4 linked regions of the Homo sapiens genome follow. The protein of the gene in region 1 interacts with the protein of each later gene in a pairwise test. Each region holds a gene or a part of one and is shown in the gene's direction. Other genes may lie near its edges.

What was found. Proteins that work in one complex are often made in the same cells at the same time.
Region 2: the proteins of CEP76 (region 1) and PLA2G6 interact in binary tests that used the Homo sapiens proteins (3 or more experiments, as listed by UniProt).
Region 3: the proteins of CEP76 (region 1) and CRYBA4 interact in binary tests that used the Homo sapiens proteins (3 or more experiments, as listed by UniProt).
Region 4: the proteins of CEP76 (region 1) and TCF19 interact in binary tests that used the Homo sapiens proteins (3 or more experiments, as listed by UniProt).

Annotation. Positions count from the first base shown.
Region 1 is NC_000018.10:12,692,724-12,696,223, reverse strand, and holds part of CEP76 (centrosomal protein of 76 kDa), read left to right. Parts: intron 1-872; coding exon 873-970; intron 971-3,500. UniProt on the Homo sapiens protein: Centrosomal protein involved in regulation of centriole duplication. Required to limit centriole duplication to once per cell cycle by preventing centriole reduplication.
Region 2 is NC_000022.11:38,113,413-38,115,830, reverse strand, and holds part of PLA2G6 (85/88 kDa calcium-independent phospholipase A2), read left to right. Parts: intron 1-149; coding exon 150-304; intron 305-2,176; coding exon 2,177-2,344; intron 2,345-2,418. UniProt on the Homo sapiens protein: Calcium-independent phospholipase involved in phospholipid remodeling with implications in cellular membrane homeostasis, mitochondrial integrity and signal transduction.
Region 3 is NC_000022.11:26,620,585-26,624,762, forward strand, and holds the start of CRYBA4 (beta-crystallin A4), read left to right. Parts: upstream 1-1,378; 5' UTR 1,379-1,402; intron 1,403-2,000; coding exon of another isoform or gene 2,001-2,012; coding exon 2,013-2,051; intron 2,052-2,649; coding exon 2,650-2,768; intron 2,769-4,178. UniProt on the Homo sapiens protein: Crystallins are the dominant structural components of the vertebrate eye lens.
Region 4 is NC_000006.12:31,161,589-31,164,715, forward strand, and holds the end of TCF19 (transcription factor 19), read left to right. Parts: coding exon 1-417; intron 418-888; coding exon 889-1,129; 3' UTR 1,130-1,228; coding exon of another isoform or gene 1,229-1,238; 3' UTR 1,239-2,627; downstream 2,628-3,127. Other genes in the region: POU5F1 (POU domain, class 5, transcription factor 1), read right to left, coding at 3,013-3,127. UniProt on the Homo sapiens protein: Potential transcription factor that may play a role in the regulation of genes involved in cell cycle G1/S transition. May bind to regulatory elements of genes, including the promoter of the transcription factor FOXO1.

The DNA of each region.
Region 1 (3,500 bases):
AGTAATTTAGATTTTAATAAGTCATACCAAGAATGTATTTTTCTTTAAATAAAAATTATAGAAAAAGTGTCCTTTATGTAAGAAATTTATTTTCAAAAACAATACCCAATTTGTCTTCAAAAATAGGCCTAACATGATAATCGTAGCAGTGACCTGGAAACAAGCAGATTCTGATTCACTGAAGAAACATTAAATCGTTTTGATGTGAAGTATATTTGTTTTCTAGTTCTTTAAATCCAGGCATGGATTGAAAATTTCTACTCAGCCTGTAATTGGATAATGGGGAGTGACAAATGGGAGTTACTATAAGTGACAATATAAATGCTTTCTAATTTTTAGTGTGTGTGTGTGTGTGTGTGTGTGTGTGTGTGGAGAAGGAATGAGGTGTTAACAGTTGCTTTGACTTTGAATTTAATGTAAGTCTGGTTGATATTATACATTTAATTAAGACAAAAATTAAGAGTCTCAAATCCTTTAAGTCAGAAAAGTTTCTTAAAACCTGTTAGAAAAGCCAGGTGTAGTGGCTCATGCCTGTAATCCCACCAAGCACTTTGGAAGGCTGAGGCAGGAATATCACTTGAGCCCTGGAGTTTAAGACCAACCTGAATAACATAGGGAGACCCCATCTCTACTTAAAGAAGAAAAAGAGTGTCAGAAAGCTAAGAAAATAATCTCCTTATAATTAAACACCTTTGTTTAAAAAAATTGATTTGGTTCATTTTAATATGAATATTAAAGGTAATGTTGAATGTTATCTTTATTCCATGTAAGTGATAAAACACCCAAGTGCCTAAATTATTTTGGTTAGACTTTGGTTGACTAAATATATATAGTATTGAAATCTCTGAAGTTCAAAATATTTATGTTTATAGGCACAGAATCAAAAGTTTCTGTGGGAATTTTAAATATAAAACTTGAAATGTATCCACCACTCAATCAAACGTTATCTCAAGAAGTAGTGAACACACAGGTAAATACTTATGAGTTTCTCTTTTTTTGTGTGTTTGTTTTCATAGTAGTATATTTACCTGTTGATCCTAGAAAGCACTCTATTTTTAGAAAATTACCATTTATTACTTTCTAGATTAGCACTCAAAGGTTCACAAAAAGGATGAGGAAGAAAATAAAGACAAGATTGTTTTCCTAGCAGAATCTGTAGTCTAGTTTAGGAAATACGATGAACATTTATTGAGACAGCATAAGAATTACAGGATAGGCCGGTGGCTCACGCCTGTAGTCCCAGCACTTTGGGAGGCCGAGGCGGGCGGATCACAAGGTCAGGAGATCGTGACCATCCTGGCTAACACGGTGAAACCCCGCCTCTACTAAAAATACAAAAAAAAAAAATAGCCGGGCGTGGTGGCAGGCACCTGTAGTACCAGCTACCCGGGAGGCTGAGGCAGGAGAATGGCGTGAACCGGTAAGAGGAGCTTGCAGTGAGCCCAGATCGCACCAGTGCACTCCAGCCTGGGCAACAGAGCAAGACTCCATCTCAAAAAAAGAAAAAAAAAAAAAGAATTACAGGATAAAGCTGAAGAAGATCAAAGAGTAAAGTGCAACCTCAGTGGGATGGGATTTTAACGTTCTTTCGCAGGCGTTTATTGAAAGCTTGCTGCTTATGTCTTTTCTGCTCTGTTCTCTCAGGGTAGAAGTGCTTGCCACTTTTAGAGTGTGTTTGGAGAGGCTTTTTTCCCTAATTCCACTGTCAGGTCTCTGATGAATTACTTTCTTCCTGGGTCTTAAAAGATCGGCAGATTTTTTCATTCCTTCACATTGGATTTGCCATCCATGTTTAGTTCTTGCCAGTCTTTAGTTTGGAGGTTCTCATTATCTGCTGACTTGCCGGGATGGCACTTGTGGAATGGTTCTCCTTGATTACATACACCACCCTTTACTCCACCCTGCCTGTCATATTGTTCCTTTTACAGACCTGTGGTTAGACGCTAGTGCTTCTCCCTCAGGCAAACAATGTCCTGCCCTGTTTTCTTTAAACTTTTTTTCCTTCCTTTTGTAAACTCTCATCTCCCTCTAATCTCTAGCTTCTGACATGTGTCATGGGTGGTATATATACCTGAAACCACATAGTGAGAACCAACTTTGATGTTACTCAAATAAATACCCAGCCCTGTGGGAGGCTAAGGTGGGTGGATCACTTTTGAGTCCAGCAGTTTAGGACCAGCTTGGGCAACATAGTGAGACCCTGTCTCTACAAAAATTTTAAAAAATTAGTCAAGCATGGTGGTACATACTTGTAGTCCCAGCTGCTTGGGAAGCTGAAATGGGAGGATTGCTTGACCCAGGAATTTGAGGTTACAGTGAGCTGTGATTGTACCACTGCACACTAGCCTGGGTTACAGACTAAGACCCTGTCTCTTAAATAAATGGTGTATACACACATATACATTATGTGTATACGTGAGGGGTTTTTTTGTTTGTTTTTTTCAGACAGAGTCTCGCTCTGTCGCCAGGTTGGAGTGCAGTGGCGCAATCTTGGCTCACTGCAACGTCTGCCTGCCGAGTTCAAGCAATTCTCCTGCCTCAGTCTCCTGAGTAGCTGGGACTACAGGTGGGTGCCACCACGCCCAGCTAATTTTTGTATTTTTAATAGAGACAGGGTTTCACCATGTTGGCCAGGATGGTCTCGATCTCTTGACCTCGTGATCTGCCTGCCTCGGCCTCCCAAAGTGGTATACATGAGTTTTAATCATGTTATTCATATATTTATGTGACATATAAAGTAAATGTTTGGGCTCTACTTTTTTGGGGTAGTAGCTTGTTTTTTTTAATTAAATTTTATTTTTTTAGAGACAGCATCTCACTCTCTCAGGCTTGAGTGCAGTGGTGTGATTATAGCTCACTGAAACCTCAGACTCCCAGCCTCAAGCAATCCACCTGCCTCAGCCTCCCAAAACATTGGGATTGCAGACATGGACCATTGTGCCCCACCAGGTTCTCCTTTTTAAACTTAACATTATTTTATATGTATTTTCTTATATTTCCACTGTCATATTTATAATTTCTAGTGACTAAAACATAAGTTTATTCTATTATCTGATAAATAAATTGCTTCTAATTTTCTCTTTAAAATTGCACTATTAAAACTTTTAGCCAGGCTAATTAATCTGTAATCCCAGCACTTTGGGAGGCCAAGGTAAGAGGATCACTTCAGGCCAGGAGTTCAAGACCAGCCTGGGCAACATAGGTAGACTTCATCTCTACAAAAATTTTTAAAAATTAACTGCACATGGTGGTGCATTCCTGTAGTCCCAGCTACTGGGGAGGCTGAGGTGGGAGGATCGCTTAAGCCCAGGAATTCGAGGCTACAGTGAGCCATGATCATGCAGTAGCACTCCAGACTGGGTGACAGAGCAAGACCCTGTCTCTTAAAAGAAATTAAAGTCAGAAATATGTATGGATCCTAAATAGATGTCAAAATGTGCTAGACACTGTTCTAGACACTGGAGATGTAGCTGTGTATAGGGCAGCAGACAGCTAGACAG
Region 2 (2,418 bases), on another chromosome or scaffold:
GTGGCTTCGTGGGTCCTGCTTCTGAAGAGTTCCCAGCCTCCCCTCTTCCCGCACCCCCAGCCCCCAACACGCACACCCTGAGATCTGGAGTGCATGGGTTTTATGCCAGTCCCTTGTGCCACTGGGCCGCCCTCCTTCCCCGCCCCTAGACCAGCTGGTGTGGCGGGCGGCCCGAAGCAGCGGGGCAGCTCCTACTTACTTCCGACCCAATGGGCGCTTCCTGGACGGTGGGCTGCTGGCCAACAACCCCACGCTGGATGCCATGACCGAGATCCATGAGTACAATCAGGACCTGATCCGCAAGGTGAGTGCCGTAGGCCAGAGGGCCTGGACCCACTGCTCCCTGGAGCCAATCCTGTGTCAGCAAACCATGCTAGGGACCGACCCCCAGGACAGCAGGTGGCTTTTACACACGCACTCATTCATATGTGCACACAGGGCAAATTGATCTCACTGGAACCTGTTCCATGGGTGGGATCTGCCTGAAGCACTGTGCTAAGGGGGATCTGAGGACCACTGTGCTCTAAGTGTGCATGAGTGGGGAGGGCGGCATGCATACCATGAACGTGCCACTCGAGCCAGCCTGGGGACAGGACACATGCTTGCCCTTGAGCTCACCTCTGTGGATAGACAGTCCCACAGGAATGCCTGTCCCCACGGGTTGCCGGTGCTGTGGTGGAGGACCGTGAGGCCTCTGCTAAAAGGCCTGGGGGCTCGGAAAGGGCTCCATGGAACAGGGGACCCATCCTGAGGCCCTTGGGGACAGAGCAGTGCAGAATCAGTGATCTGGAGGAAGAGCAGCAGCCCTCTCTCTGCAGAGGTACAGCAGAGGCTGGCAGGACCCAGCATGCTAGGGGAGGCCCTGTGGCGTGGCGGGCGGTGGGTGACCGGGGTGGGCGAGCGCGGTGGCTGAGCTCAGACCCTGGAGCCAGGGCGCCTCTGGGGGTCCCCGTTCTGCCTGCACTCACTGCAGCTACCTAATGGGGCCATCATAGCGCCTGCCTGGGGAGGCTGCGAGGCCTTGGCATGCTGTTGTCTGTGAAATGTTCACAGCACTGCCGGGAGCCTGAGCTGCATCCTTGCTGCTGTGGTTTCCCGAAGCCCCAGGGCGTCCTGGGCAGCGCAGCAGAGGCTCTGGGCAGACAGAGAAGCGCCCTCTAGGGGCCAGATCGGGCAGGGCGGGCTTCCTGCAGGCGGCAGAGACCGTCAGACTGTCAGACACTAGCCAGTCTAACTCTCCTATTGCGTGCGGATGGGGAGCCTGGGACCCAGAGTGGGAGGCATCACCCAAGATCATCCAGCAAATCGGCAGCAGAGCTTGTTCGGAAGCAAATAAGAGAGGCAGCGGCCGGGCGCAGCGGCTCACGCCTGTAATCCCAGCACTTTGGGAGGCCGAGGCAAGTGGATCATGAGGTCAGGAGATCGAGACCATCCTGGCTAACACGGTGAAACCCTGTCTCTACTAAAAATACAAAAAAATTAGCCAGGCGGGCATAGTGGCAGGAGCCTGTAGTCCCAGCTACTCGGGATGCTGAGGCAGGAGAATGGTGTGAACCCAGGAGGCGGAGCTTGCAGTGAGCCGAGATCGCGCCACTGCACTCCAGACTGGGAGACAGAGCGAGACTCCGTCTCAAAAAAAAAAAAAAAAAGGCAGCACCCAGGGCTCAGGTTCAAGCCTTAGCCCCTACTTCCCTACCACGTGGCCCCTGCAGCTGCTTCCCGGCCTGAGCTTCGCTGAGAGCCCTCATTTGCAAACTGGGTGATCAGTGCCCTCTCCACAGACTGGCTGGAGATTAAATGAAGTAATGATGCAAATACCTGGCAAATCACCAACACCAAGGAACACCGTCTGCCTTTCCTCCCCTGGCCACGACTTGACTTGGGCCAGCATCAGATGGGGTGGGCGGGATCCTTCTTGCAGCTGGTGTATGTGTGGTCCTGTTGGTACACAGATGCTGTCCTGAGCAGATGGCATGTGATGCCCGCACCAGCCGTTCTGGGGTCACGTGCAAGAGGCTGGCTGGAAATCATGCCAGGCATGCTCTTGCCACCAGAGACCTCTTGCCCTGTTCTCATGTGCCCCAGAGCCCAGTCTTGGGCCTCCCCTTGACGCTCCCCTTCGTGCCCCCTACCTGTGGAAGGTCTCTTCTGACTGCCCCTGTCCTGTTCCCAACAGGGTCAGGCCAACAAGGTGAAGAAACTCTCCATCGTTGTCTCCCTGGGGACAGGGAGGTCCCCACAAGTGCCTGTGACCTGTGTGGATGTCTTCCGTCCCAGCAACCCCTGGGAGCTGGCCAAGACTGTTTTTGGGGCCAAGGAACTGGGCAAGATGGTGGTGGACTGTGTGAGTGTGGGCCCCTCCCCCAGGCCACTTCCCTCAGGGTCTGTAGCCCAGGTCGATGGCTTCCCCTCATCCTG
Region 3 (4,178 bases), on another chromosome or scaffold:
GACGGGGTCTTGCTCTGTCACCCAGGGTCAAGAGAAATGGCATGATCTTGGCTCACTGAAACCCCTGCCTCCAGGTTCAAGCAATTCTCCTGCCTCAGCCTCCCTAGTAGCTGGGATTACAGGCGCCCGCGCTACTCCCGGCTAATTTTTGTGTTTTTAGTAGAGACGGGGTTTCACCATGTTGGCCAGCCTGGTCTTGAACTCCTGACCTCAGGTGATCCACCCACCTCGGCCTCCCAAAGTGCTGAGATTACAGGCGTGAGCCATTGCGCCCAGCCTAAAGTCATGCGTTTGATAGAGCTGCATTTCACCCTCTTAAAAGGAAACTGGTGTGGCCACTTTACAGGTCATGAGCAGGACTCAGGTGTCCTCCAGGTCACACGGATGGTAAGAAAGAAGCAGGGCTGGATTTCATCTCAGATGATCTGGTTTCCAGTCATGCTGTTTTCCTATGCTTGTTACACCCATTTTACACACAAGTATGTATGTATGAGGGACCTCTTAGGTCCCTCATACGCCAATTCAGAGGGCAGGGTTTCGGGACAAGAGGCACACAGCAAATTGTACAAGTCCTGGATATTTGGCAAGTGTGCCACAGTTTGCAAAGCATGTTTGCAACTAACAGCTCCTCTATGCTGCCCACAGTGCCATCCGGATTCATCTTCAGGCTTTGTGGACCCAGCAGGCCCTGGCCTAGCCCTCTTCTCCTGCCTCACTTCCCTTCAGGTCCCCTGAGCTCCAGGCCAATTGGGCTACCAGCTCTTTCTTGTACATGTGCCCCAAGTTCCCACCTCTGAACTTTTTCTTAGAATGCCTCTCCTTCCATCTCACTCTGTACATATCTTCCTCATCCTTCAGAGTCTAGTTCAAATGCCTCCTCTAACGGCAAGCCTATCTGGATTGCTTCAACTGGAAGAGAAAGGGGAAAGAGAGAAGGAAAGGAATAGGCATTTCCTGAATGTTTACTCTGTACCAGGCATGTTATGTAACCTCACAACAACTCTGTGATATGGTTTGTTTCTGCCCCATTTTATAGGCAGAAATTGAGGGGAAATGACTCGCTGGAGCTCACATAGCTAGGAAGGATGCTTCTGGACTCCTCATCTAGTGCTCATTCTCCTGCTCTAGTCAGGAACCTTGTGGGGCTGATGAGGGCCAATATTCCACCTCTCTCCTTCTTCGTGGCTGATCCCTGGGGGTGGTGATCTGGTCCTTTCCCTCCCTGCTAAAGCCAGAGCTGCTGACGGCTTGCCATTGGCTCTTCAGCCAGGGCTGGCTTTTGTTTCTGTGGCCCAGTTGCTGAGTCGGGGCTTTGTCTCCCAGGGGCCCCTCTTCCCTCCCTGCCTATAAGAGCCCGACCTCGGCTGGTCTCAGATCTGACATGTTCCCTGGGCCTATCTCGGTAAGTCCCAGGTTTGGAGGAGGGGTGGGATCAGAGTTCTGAGTGAGCATTCTGGGAGGCGAGGAACCCAGGTCCCCAGTCCTAGGGATGTCACTGTGTCATCCTGAATGCCATCCTCATCCTAACCAAGGATGAGCCCCAACCATCAAGACCAGCACCTGCTTCCCTCATTTAAAAACAAATTATTCCTGTAGCCCTATTGCCTAAATTTCCACCATCAGAGCTACCTCTTTGAGCTAGGTGCTGTCTTTGGAAGGGCTCTCTTATGCTGAGCATTTCAGCACTCGCTGGGGTGATGCACCCACCCACCAGCAGCCACAAAAATTTTCCCATAACAAGCAGATAAGAGAATACAGAGTGGGGCTCAGAGTCAATGAGACCCAGCAAGGGTGAGTTTTGAGATGGGGATAGGATGGAAGATGGCATTGGTGACAGATGGAAAGGACAGGAGAGGGACAGGCCAAAGCCATGCATTGCCCCTAGCCCAGTCACTCCTGGACTCCCTATGTGGATCCTGACCAGGTCCAAGCCAGCCATCTGCATAAAGAGGAGAGCAGAGGGTCAGGGTGGAAGATTATAATGTTCTTCTCTTCTGCAGGAAGGGGCCACAATGACCCTGCAATGCACAAAGTCAGCGGGACCCTGGAAGGTAGGAAGAGGCATGGGGAGGGGGTGTTCAGGGGGTATGGGGAGGGTTCAGGTCCCCATGAATCCTAGGAGGGGGGCATTATAAATGCCTATTTCACAGAGGTGCAATCAAGGCTCAGAGTTGAGAAGGGACTTGTATGTCACATACAGGGAGGTTGAATGTGAATTTGGGTCTTCTGGTTCCCAAAGTTGACCTGTTACACTCTTTGGCAGAGGTTGCAGTCTTTGGGCATGATTTCTTTGACCATCTCTGTGTGTGTTTGTTTGTTTTATAAAGCTTTTGGATTTATCATCAGCCTTTAAAAGCCTGGAAGAACCACATAAAAGTCCAGATCTAGTGATTGTCTTGAGAAATTGGAAGGTCTGGCCTGCATTCCCACTTGGCAACCATTGGTGGCACTGGGAAGAGGCCACCCATTTACCTGGCACCTGTGCTGTCTAGTGTCTCACATTTATCACTGCTCTTGCCTTCCTGGCTCCTGGAGGAATCTGAGTTTGCAATCCCTGCTTTACCTGCCAGATCCTGGGGCGAGCCCCCAACCTCTCACCCTTCACGGGACTCTGATGCGGATCTCCACCTTTTTTTTTTCCTGGCACAGATGGTGGTGTGGGATGAGGACGGCTTCCAGGGCCGGCGGCACGAGTTCACGGCCGAGTGCCCCAGCGTGCTGGAGCTTGGCTTCGAGACTGTGCGATCTTTGAAAGTGCTGAGTGGAGCGTGAGTCTAGGGGGACACTGAGTTGGGGTAGAGGGTGGACAGGAAGGGACCTAGAGACGGGTGCTAGGACTTTTAGATATTCTAGGTCCCCTCTCCCTAGGCTCTTACTGTTGTGCCCTCCTGAAGTACTGAGGAGTGTGCAGGACTGCCATGTAAGATTATGCAGGTTGCGCACTGCCCAACAGTAGGAGGGTGCCATTTACACAGACCCTGCCCACTGGATGAGGCAGTTCTGCAGGAGATCCTTAGAATCCAGTGTTGGATCTAAAAATGTCCCTCCCAGCCGTAAATTGAAAGCCAACATCACCCGCCTAAAGTAGAAGGTAACTGTAAAAATAAACATAATGTTTTAATGCTATTAATTTTTAGCTAAATAGTCTTGCTGCTAAGCATGTGGCCTGATCATTTTTTGTAAAAAAAAAAAAAATTAAAAAACAAAAAAGAGAGTGAGAGAGAGAGATTAGTGAGACACAGAGAGGTGTTAAGGACACACTAATAACACACCAAGACTTTCTAGACCAGTGTCATTCAGTGGACCTGTCTGCAATGATGGAGATGTTCTACATCTACACCATCCATTTCAGAGCCACTGGCCAGATGTGACCATTGAGGATTTGAAAGGTAGCCAGCATGAGTAGAGAACTGAATCTTGTTTAATCTTAATTTATTTAAGTTTAAATTTAATTAGCTACATATGGCCAGTGGCTACCATATTAGATAGAAGGTTCTAGAAGGTTGGAAAGCAGGTAGAAAGGAGATGTGGCCAGTAGCTACCATATTGGATAGAAGGCTCTAGAAGTTTGGAAAGTAGTTGGAAAGATGTGGCCAGTAGCTACCATATTGGATAGAAGTTTCTAGAAGGCAGGAAAGTAAATAGAAAGGAGGTGTGGCCAGTAGCTACCATACTGGATAAAAGTTCTAGAAGTTTGGAAAGTAGATCGAAAGGAGATGTGGCCAGTAGCTTCCATATTGGATAGAAGGTTCTAGAAGGTTGGAAAGTAGCTAGAAAGGCAATGTGGCCAGTAGCTACCATATTGGATAGAAGGTTCTAGAAAGTTGGAAAGTAGATAGACAGGAGATGTGGCCAGTAGCTACCATATTGGATAGAAGGTTGTAGAAGTTTGGAAAGTAGATAGGAGATTTGGAGTCACTTAATGCTACACCTGTGAGTGCCACCTGAGGTCATCTTGGGTGATTTTTGCACATCTCATGCTTTAGTAAATACTCTTTTAGCTTCTGATTTGTGCAGGTGGGGAATGGGGGTCAGATGGGAACAGAGGCTTTCTAGGGGTATGTCCAGCAGGCTGACAGACTCAGCCAGTAAGCAGACAATGAGCTTGGATAGATTCAGACAGTTTATTACTTATACAGACAGTAAAGGCAAGGTGCAGCCTCCTGTGTCCCTTGTCC
Region 4 (3,127 bases), on another chromosome or scaffold:
GCCTCAGGACTTTGCTGCCATTACCATCCCACGGTCTAGGGGAGAAGCCCGGGTTGGGGCTGGTTTCCGGCCTATGCTGCCCTCCCAGGGGGCTCCACAGCGGCCTCTCAGCACCTTCTCCCCTGCCCCCAAGGCCACACTGATCCTAAACTCCATAGGCAGCCTCAGCAAGCTCCGGCCCCAGCCCCTCACCTTCTCCCCTAGTTGGGGTGGACCAAAGAGCCTGCCTGTTCCCGCCCCACCTGGGGAAATGGGGACCACGCCTTCTGCTCCACCACAACGCAATCGGAGGAAATCTGTTCACCGAGTGTTGGCGGAACTGGATGATGAGAGTGAGCCTCCTGAGAACCCGCCACCGGTCCTTATGGAGCCCAGGAAGAAACTCCGTGTAGACAAAGCCCCACTGACTCCCACTGGGTAAGTGGAGTCCTCACTTGGCCCTCTCAGTGTTTTACTGCTTTTCGATTCCTTGTATCCCTAGGCTGTGAGGAGGTCCCCCTGCCTGGGGGGATGGGCACGGGAGGTGGAATAGATGGAATGGCAAGACCTGGGTTAGCTCTGATAGGAAAAGAAAAATATGTGCAGGAGAACATGAGAGGTGGGGTGGGGCAGTGCTTATAAAACAACCGGAGTGAGCATGTCCTGCTTTTTACATTCATATGGCTTTAACCCCATTCTTCTAGTGCCTAAGGATGGGGAACTTTCAGGCTCATACTAGAGGTTTTTAGGCCCACCCTATGTGTTTTTAAGGACAGAGTCCAGGCTCACCTTAGTTCTCAGACCACTGTGCCTCTGTGGCCTCACCCTATGACCAGCCATAGGGTGGCAAGGTCTAGGCCTTCTCCTACAGGTTTCCGGTGACCCTTGTGTCTGTGTCACTTCCTTCAGAAATCGACGTGGCCGTCCTCGGAAGTACCCAGTGAGCGCTCCCATGGCTCCCCCTGCAGTTGGGGGCGGGGAGCCCTGTGCAGCTCCTTGTTGCTGCCTGCCCCAGGAAGAGACAGTGGCCTGGGTTCAGTGTGATGGCTGTGACGTCTGGTTCCATGTGGCCTGTGTTGGCTGCAGCATCCAGGCTGCCAGGGAGGCCGACTTCCGATGCCCAGGGTGCCGGGCTGGCATTCAGACCTAAGGTCCACTGCCAAGGCACCATCGGACACACCTGCCCATGAGTAGACACAGCAGCGAGCAAATAGGTCTGATAAATACCCCCCTTCCCTTCCCTCCCCAGGAGGGAATGACTACAGGGAAGAAGGATGGATTGATGTGGACTCATTCAGGGCCTGGAGCAGACCCTGGTGGCCAAGACAGAAGAGATGGTTTCCTGCCAAAGATATTGCCACCTCCAGGAAATTGCCAGTGAGCTGGAAGTTCCCACTATTACAAGCCATAAGGCCATGTTGCCATGGACACCAGAATATCTGTAGTCAGAGCACCTATCAGTTGCAAAAGCCATGCCTGCAACCGATGGAAAATGTAAGAGGGAGTTCTTAAGGTTCTTGGTGGCATCACCCAAGGCATTCTGGGAAAACCTAGGGCCTGGCCCCAAAACTTCCCTACTCTGTGGCTAGTCCTGCTGCCAACAAAATCGTAGCGACCTGGCTTTTCACAGCTTTGCTTTTATTTCCAAGTCAAGGACAAGCCGCTTCATTCACTCCTGGGCATTTACTCTTCTTGTGGGTCTGTGATATTCCTTGCTTTCCAGGGAGAATGTGCTTGGCAAGGTCTGGAGAACTAATTCAGAATCTTAGGGGAAGGGGAGAGATGGAAATACAAACCTGCTTACTGGAAAGGTGCAAATATATGGGTTGAGCTGGAGGTAGGAATACAGGTAATTAAGGTTTCTAGTTTAAGGGAAAACAGATCTATTGCCATTTAAATAAGGTAACTGGGATTTGGTTAAGTTCACAAAGATAGCAGAAGATTTATTTACAGGCTTCACCTGTACTGTCAGGGCAAGAGAAAGCCTGGTAAACCAGCTACAGCAGTTTACCAGTGTGATGGCTGTGACACAGCTCCACTCCACGGGTGGACACAGCAGAGGGCAACTGGGCTGGCCTGGTTCAGTGTGAATCAAACCGCTTAACCCACACATGGTACATGTGATTTTCTTTTGTGAGCCTTACACCAAGCCAAACTATTGTCAAAGCATCATTTCTATAGAAATAAAGCCTTATCTTGACCTGTTCTATTAAAACCTGCCACACCCGCCCTTTCCTACCTAGATTTAATGAGCCCAAGTTTTTAAAATGGAAGAAATGACTCTGGGGCAAAGACCCCTAATGAACTAGTGGCAGAGCCAGGAATAAAACTTGAGTAACTAATGAGTCACTTATGGGCAGAGTATGCAAAAACCTTAAGTGGAAACCAAATAGACCCTGGTATCAAGAAAGCACAAAGTATTAATAGAAGTTTCTGGTTGGGGTGATCTAGGTTCAACAGAAATAAGATGATTTCTAAGTATAAAGCCATTTAAGAATTCCAGAGTAGGGTGGGAAAGCAAAAAGCCAGCTCTGAACAGGTAACAGCTACATGGTGACTGAGTCTATGGGCAAAAGTTCTTGCATCACAGGCTTTTGGGAACTAGCCTATCACAGGGCCCTGTACAAATAAACTTGGCTGCAATCCCAGCTCTCCCTCTGATGTTGTGTGACCTTAAGGAGTGTAAATGGCACCTTAGTTTCAGGGTCACTTGGGTATGAGCATTGGATATTCCCATCCCTACCTCAGTAACTGAAGGACAAACCAAGATAAGTGTGTCTATCTACTGTGTCCCAGGCTTCTTTATTTAAGAAAAAAGTGATACATGATGTGGGATTAAAATCAAGAGCATCATTGAACTTCACCTTCCCTCCAACCAGTTGCCCCAAACTCCCCTGCCCCCACCCTTTGTGTTCCCAATTCCTTCCTTAGTGAATGAAGAACTTAATCCCAAAAACCCTGGCACAAACTCCAGGTTTTCTTTCCCTAGCTCCTCCCCTCCCCCTGTCCCCCATTCCTAGAAGGGCAGGCACCTCAGTTTGAATGCATGGGAGAGCCCAGAGTGGTGACGGAGACAGGGGGAAAGGCTTCCCCCTCAGGGAAAGGGACCGAGGAGTACAGTGCAGTGAAGTGAGGGCTCCCATAGCCT